Homo sapiens: one gene and its partner. The protein of the gene in region 2 purifies or fractionates together with the protein of the main gene of each other region. This does not show direct contact. Each region holds a gene or a part of one and is shown on either strand. Other genes may lie near its edges.

Evidence for each region.
Region 1: the proteins of NYAP2 (region 2) and ARHGAP26 purify together in Homo sapiens (affinity purification with western blotting, with the first as the bait; one study listed by BioGRID). This does not show direct contact.

Annotation. Positions count from the first base shown.
Region 1 is NC_000005.10:143,056,753-143,060,573, reverse strand, and holds part of ARHGAP26 (rho GTPase-activating protein 26), read right to left. Parts: intron 3,523-3,821; exon of another isoform or gene 2,933-3,522; coding exon 2,827-2,932; exon of another isoform or gene 2,825-2,826; intron 2,753-2,824; coding exon of another isoform or gene 2,533-2,752; exon of another isoform or gene 2,220-2,532; intron 1-2,219. UniProt on the Homo sapiens protein: GTPase-activating protein for RHOA and CDC42. Facilitates mitochondrial quality control by promoting Parkin-mediated recruitment of autophagosomes to damaged mitochondria.
Region 2 is NC_000002.12:225,510,920-225,514,740, reverse strand, and holds part of NYAP2 (neuronal tyrosine-phosphorylated phosphoinositide-3-kinase adapter 2), read right to left. Parts: intron 1,371-3,821; coding exon 1,069-1,370; intron 1-1,068.

The DNA of each region.
Region 1 (3,821 bases), on a different chromosome or scaffold from region 2:
TTGCCTATAATTTTTATGTTCCCTCTGAGGTCTGAAACAAATCCAACATCTCTGTGATTTGGATGTACCCTGGTAATCATTTGCTTTAGAGGTTTGGAGTTTTTATCCTTCCCCCCACCCAATACTTTTTTTCCCCTCTGAATGAATTTTTAGCTGGGATTAAATATAAAATGCCTTAAATCTCCCTCTGTGGCTAAGGGAAATCAGTTTTGGAAAATGTTTCAAAAGAGTACTTTAAAAAATATACAATACAAAATGCTTGCCTTTGAACCAGAATTCTGAGATGCACAAGGCAAACAGTAAGTAATAAGAGAAGTAAACACCAGTTTTCCAGCAGAATCAGCCCTGAAACCAAAACTTAGGAAGGAAGCTGACCATTAAGTAAGTAGCCCAGAGGAACAATAGCTCAGGCATAGCCTAGGGTAAGTCTAAACCTGAGAAAACTGGAATCAGACAAACCTCTTGTCCCAAGTTAACTTTCCCTTACTGCTTGATTTTAAAATAAGGACAGTGCTGTAAATGAGAATATAAAGTTTAAGTGGAATCTTAGAACTCCTCTGGATGCCAAAGAATTTTTTCAGACCTAAATAAATACTCTTTACTGGATTCAACACTGCTCATTCATATCCTTCTCCACAGGGACATTTTAAATATAGAGGCTCGAGAGACAAGAACACAGCACGCTAAGAATTTGAGTCCGCTATAGTCTAATACTAGCTCTAACCAACTCACATTACAGCATGAGAGCTTGTCTACAGGTAGATTTCTTGATAATTAAATGATCAAAACATGCCATAAAACCACAGAAAATCATTCTCAAGTTTCACAGATAAGACAATGATCAAGAAATGCTATGAAGTAAACAACTCCAAAAATAAAATTGCCTTAAATTGGTTAGAAGGCCAAAAAAACAAAAATGTGTCAAGGTCACAACTGTGATTTGCAAATTCCAGTTTACAACTCTTAGGTTAGTAACAAGGATGGACTGAATGTAATGGGACTGGAGGGGGAAAGGGTGGGAAAAGGAGGAGAAAGTGAGTCATCCAACCAGGAGATGAACAAGTTCAACTGTTCAAGATCTACCTTAAGGGTTTGGTTTTGTTTTTTAAATCCTTTTTTCTTCTTCTTTAAAGAATCCTAACAATCCTAAAGGAAATTTAAAAGTAGGAAAAACGCAACACTGGCTCTGCTGGGTCACCCTTCACTTTTGGTCTCTCTCAGTTCAGTTAAGCTCTCCTTCCAACTGCACAGCTTGAAAAGGCCCATGGCTTTCAGATGGTTCCTAACCCTTCTCCAGCTGCTCTCTGCAGGCCTGAAGGCCTCTTTCAGACCCGATGGCCATGAAGCAGTCATGAGCATCCCCACACATGCTAGGCTGGAGGGTGCACCTGGAACCTTCTATGTCTTGGTGTTTGTCCTTCAAGTGTGCAAAGTTTTGCAACTAAGATCTAAACCAGCTTCTCTGCTTAACAAACGCCTGACTCTAGGTTGTGTGGAACTGGTACTCAACTGTCATCTCAGAGCATCTGGAGTTACTTTTTAAAGCCCAGTTCCCATTATTTTAAACATGCTTCATCGGGATTCTTTGACACCTTTAGGGCATTCTCCTGTAAACTTGCATGTTATCTGCTATTCTTCCTAAGTACTCCTGAACAAGCAGCTCTGATATGGAAAGCCAAGAAAAAAAGTTGGTCAATAATGGAGCAACTGTGGCTTTGCCGAATTCCTTCCCAATAACACACAAGACACTCTTGGCTTCTTGATGGAAATGAGGAAATGGTGGAAATCTTCATGATATATATCACTCTTTTTCCCAAAGGCAATATCAAGTGCTTGACAGAAAGATGAAAACTAACCATTACAATCTCCCTCAGAAGAATATCAACTTATCCCCAAGAAATACCCTAATGGCATAGCAAAGTATGGACTATAAGGGCCAAATTTATAACACATCAGTTCAATAGAATGTAGGGTTTAATAATTTAGGTTAACTGTTATGCTCTCATTCTTTTCTTGTGCTCCAGTCTGCAATCAAGAACATACCATCAAAGTCAACGGAAGGTTAGAACACACACACAAGTAGTGATGAATGCAGCACGGGAAGTCAGCAATGCCATTTGTGAAAGGGTCAAGGAACAGTAAATACACAAATATTCAAAACCATTCCAAGAAAATCAGGTCCCTACTGAATGCTTTGATTATCTCAGAGGACAAGTGAGTATTTGCCAAAAATAATTCCTTTATTCTTTATACTTCTTCAAAGGCTTTAATGCATGTAACTTCAAAAATCAATGATCCTTGTAGAAAAAGGGGAGTCTATTATCCATATTAGACAGATGGGGAAACTAAGGAATAGAAAGTTCAGCAGTTTGTTCAGGGCTGGTTAAGCAGCAGGTTAATAACAGAGTCAGCTCTAGAATCCAGTCCTCTTTACTAAAAACCCAAATTCTGTAAACCCACAACATATTTTTGTTTGTTCTTGATGAGCATAAGAACATATAATCCCACAAAATTCTGTGTGGTGACCTGGTATCATGGACAACACACTCCAATTTGCCCTTGATCACCATAGGTAAAATCCCCCTGAAAACTCTGCTTGGTGGCCTGGTTGCATGAGCACTTCCCCAGCATCCTCTGGGAAGGCCATCTGGCATTTGCTGCTGTTCTCCACTGCAATGAACATTTCACACATTTCTTTCCTAAGCCTCCAGCATACCTGATGCAATAGTGGGAGAGAGAAACAAAAGCAGAACTGAGACCAGCTTCACTGCTAAGATAAGAACTTTCAGGGGTAAGAAAAAGGCTAGTAATTGGTCTTAAACCTACTTTGCCAAGTGGTTCATGAGCAGCTGTAACATCTGCCGATTTTTCTCTGGGAGCCGATGAACAAGGCTGTGGATTTCAGAGACCCGAGACTCCTGGTTCTCCAGTTCTGCAAAGGAAGGAGGGAGGTAATATCTTATCAGTGTCACAGCTAAACAACTTTAAGGTTGAAAAATTAAGGGAAACCAAAGGATGAGCACTAACAGCCCAAGGATTTCTCAAAGATTTACAATCCTGTCTTGTGTGCATACTGCGTGGCCAGCATGACTAGATCTGGAAGTCCTTTTAATGGTGCTTTCTGGAACAGGGTTGCCAAAAAAATTGTCATCAAAAAATCAAAGCCAAGATGATGATGTGATGAAATGGAGCCAGTCAACTGCACACCCAGAGCTGCTCCTGAGAACAAACTCAGGAGTAGCTGGCTCCCTAGAGGGAAGACTTCATTTCAAGGAAGTAAGGAACTTTATGCACTTGTAAAGTGATAAACAAATCTTACATGAACAACATTGCAAGGGTTTCAAATATCAAAATAACACCTTGAGACAGCATCAAAGATATCAAAGGAAATGTCCAGTATCCTCAAGTCACATATGACAACCAGCCTGCTAGAAAGAAAGAAATGGCAGATAAAATATTCAAGTCTTTCTGCCAACTTGTAACCTAAATCATGGCTTGTCACATTCTCTTGGTTGAACCAAGGTAAGTGGCTTTGTTACTCTGGCAAATAGACTGATGGTACTCATCACACCTATTTATAGAACTGATGTGAGGTTTAAGTAGAGAATGGTTGCTATGGGTTTGTAATTTCTCTAGAAAGAAATGACATAAACACCATCTTCGCTCCTGGCTTTCTCCTTCCTGTTTTAAGGGGACAACTATGAGTAGATAAGGACACCAGAACATTAGGTACTACTAAATTAGGCCAGTAGTAGCTACCAGAGTAAATAAATTCTAAAGGCTGAAAGGAACCCGGGAGAGACACAAGTTATCGACATAAT
Region 2 (3,821 bases):
GTGTTTTCCACATTTGCTATGTAAAGATCTCAATGTGCCTGTGCAATGAGCTGAATGTTTGTGCTCCCCAAATTAGAATGTTGAAAACTTAATCCCATAATGATTGTATGTGGAGGTAGAAAGGGAAGGAGAGCAGTGCTTTCAGGAATAGGATTAGCATCCTCCTACGAAGAGGCCAGGGAGGCCTTTCTGCCCTTTGAGGATACAAGGAGAAGTCGGCAGTCTGCAACCAGGAAGTGGGCCCCAACAGAGCTCTCAGGCTTCCAGCCTCCAGAACTGTGAGAAATAAATTGCTGTTGCTTATATGCCACCCAGGCTATGGTGTTTTGTTATAGCAGCCCCAAATGACCAAGATAGCTTGTGTCAAGGCACACTTAAGGCTACTTTCCCACCATGGAATTCTCAGGAGTAACTCAGGGAAGCTGAGACTCTACTAAATTCAGTAAGGCCTAAAGAGCTGGTGAGATCTAGTGTTAATATGACCTAATTTATATTCATAGACCAGCAAGGAGGCTGGGATATATTTGACTTGTATGTTTCATAGCTGAGAAAAAACACAGGCAGATAAAGGTAAAAATTGGAGATATTAAGGAGAGTTTAAGATTATAGTATGCACACACATACACACATAAATACATAAATTCATATTCATTGGAAGGAAATTCACCAAAACATTAAAAATGATTATAAGCTTTTTCTTGATATTTTCCTGAATTAAAATGTCCCCTTGATAATCAAATAATAATACCTTTAATTGTATAAATAGTATAAGAAAATATAACTTTTAGATATATTTCTGGGCAGAATAATTTTTGAATAATTTGAAGCTTTAAAGGATTAAAAAACTCATATATTGCCTACCCTTTCTGAACTATCAGAAATACATTCTTCTGGAAATTTGACAACACATCAATAAATAACCTTCCCCTCAATTCTTCTTTTCTGGGACTTCAGGGTGAGAGGCAGGATTATGTGGCCCAGTGAAGAAGGCACTTGCCCCTGGGCATGCTGACCTGAACATACTATCTGAAAGAGATTTCTAGGTGACATGGACATGGCGTGTTTTACCTTCAGTCCTCTCAGGGGTTTTCCCGCTCTTACTGGCTGCAGTGCTGCTGACTGTCTCTGATGAGGTGCTCAGCTTGGTGCTGGGGTCCCTCTTGGGTTTGGGTGGTGGTTGTCTCCGTGAGCCACAGCTGCTGTCATCGTCTGTGCCCCCAACCGAGTGCAGGGACTGTGATCTCACAGAAAAGCCACTGGAGCAAGGATGGGGAAGTCTGTCCTGAGGAGCAGGCATTGTCATGAATCCCATGCGGAAATGTTTGCCCACGTAACTTCCTTCGTGGCCTCGCCCTACTTCTCCACCTATGCTGTAAAAGAAAGCAGACCAAAAACCATGAAGACAAAAGGAGCCAGGATATACAAGATCATACATGTGAGAATATTACTAATAGGGAAAATTTCAAATCTTCATTTTAGTCCGGTGAAATGCTGCCTTTTAAAACAAACTCAAGTAGCATGAAAGCATTCTAACTTTTGTGTTAAATTTTGTTTTCCCCAAAGGAAAGAAAAAATACTGCATAGAACACTTATCTTCAATCACTTTATATTTACTTTAGGTAAATCTTATCAGTGGCTTAAAATGTAAACAAGAATTCCATGACTATGACTCAGATTCATTTTGACGTGCAATTCAGTCCTAGTGGTCAGCACTTGAGACTCTTGTCCACTTCATCAAAACCATTCCTGCTTTTATCTGCTTAATATATTGGAGAAAATGAAACAAAAAACAATAATAAATGTTCTGTTACGAAAGAAAGAAAGAAAAAGAAAGGAAAGGAAAGGAAGGAAGGAAGGAAGGAAGGAAGGAAGGAAGGAAGGAAGGAAGAAAGAAAGAAAGAAAGAGAGAGAGAGAGAGAGAAAGAAAGAAAAGAAAGAGAGGGAGGGAGGGAAAGAGGGAAAAAGAGAAAAAGAGAAAGAAAGAAGAAAGAAAAACGAAAAAAGGAAGGAAGAGAAAGAAAGAAAAGAAAAAAGAAAAAGCAAAGCAAGACAAGCAAAGCAAGACAAGCAAAGAAAGATGGGAGGAAGGGAGGGAGGAAGGAAGGAAGGAGAAAAAGTAAAAAGCAAAGGAGAGGAAGGGAAAGGAAAGGGGAAGGCAGGAAAGGAAAGGAAGGAGGGAAGAAGGAAGGAAGGAGGGAAGGAAAAAGAGAAGAGAAGAAGAAAGGAGGAAAGGCAGGGAGGGAAGGAGGAAGGAAGGAGGAAGAAAGGAGGGAGGGAGGAGAAAATATTTGCTTAAATTGGTGAAGGTATTGCCAACCACTCTCAATCCTCCAGAATCTTCAGTTACATTAGAAACAGTCCTACTAAGAAATCAGACACACAAAATAAAACAGCAACATTGAGTAAAGAAGTGCAGCTTAAATATCGTTTGATCCTGAGATGATTCTAATACTTCATAAATATTCAGTGTATGCAAAGTTTCCAAATTTAAGGTTCTTAAGTTTTACATAGGAAAGTTTGAACAAAAATATTAAAATATAAGAAATCCCCTCTAATTTTGGAACTCAAGCAATTATTTAGGAAATGACTCTTGGGCCTCTGTCTATGCTATTAAGTAATAGTGACTCCTTTATGAAAAGAAGGGACACAAATGTGAATGTAAACTTTTAAAAGGAAGATTTTTCTAGAGTTTCTTTTTATCTATGAAGTTCATTCACCAAGAGTAAACACAATTTTTTAAAAATACCATTACAAAATTTTTGACTAATTTTCTTAGATATGTTTGAATGGTAAGAAGTACCTCTGAGTATATGAAGTTTGGAAGCTTGCTGAGTCTACCTTCCCAGACATGTAAGTTTATTCAGATCTTCATTTAGTAAAACTAATTTTGGCTGGCTCTGCCTTCATAATATGATGGAATTTTATATCTTTCATATCGTTACAATGTTTGTTATGATTTTAACATTCCAGTAGGAACAATAATGAAAAATGAGATTTTCTTTTCCTCCTTCAACTGGGGACTTATGACAATTACATGTCCTTTGGGGATACAGACAAGAAGAATTTAACAAGAACATTAGATTCTTGATTCTGACCTTTAACACCAATGATAACTTGCCACTCAACCCAAAATATTTTATATGTATTTTTTTCTGAATATTTTCAACTGATACTCAGACACTAAGCACGGAGTACCATCTTTGCAATAAAGGTGGCTGGAATTTCAGTGCACTAAAAATCAACAGTATCCAGAAGCATGAATGGAGTCCAAGTGATGGCTAAGGGGCAGTGTTGACATCATAGCCGAAAGTATCCTAAGTCAGTGCAGTGTTTTTATGTGTTTTATCCTCTCTCTCTCTCTCTCTCTGTGTGTGTGTGTGTGTGTGTGTGTGTGTGTGTGTGTGTGTGTGTGTTTTAAAGAACGGCAATTAAGACATACATTAGAAGCTTATCCAAACAGAGTGGTTTGTGAAAAATGAAGAATATGAGAAAGGATGGGATAGTGGACGTGAGGGGCAGTCTTGGTATAGGAAGGTCTGTCTTCAGTTTGTGATGGTTGTGGTTTTGATCTTTCTCATAGATGATATACTTGATGTAATCTAACTTTGCTTTCAATTATTTTTCATCCTAATGTCTTTTGTTCATTTCTGTTTCATCACAGCACAAAAGGTGCTTTAAGGATTTATTTAGCCAGTCATCCCATTTCTGGTAACACAGCCAGCTGGGGAAATTTATGCATGTGTTAATGCACATGGGCATTTATGAGTTACTAAAAATAATTCTATCAGCAATTTCTCAGTTACTTTTGACCTAAATGGAGC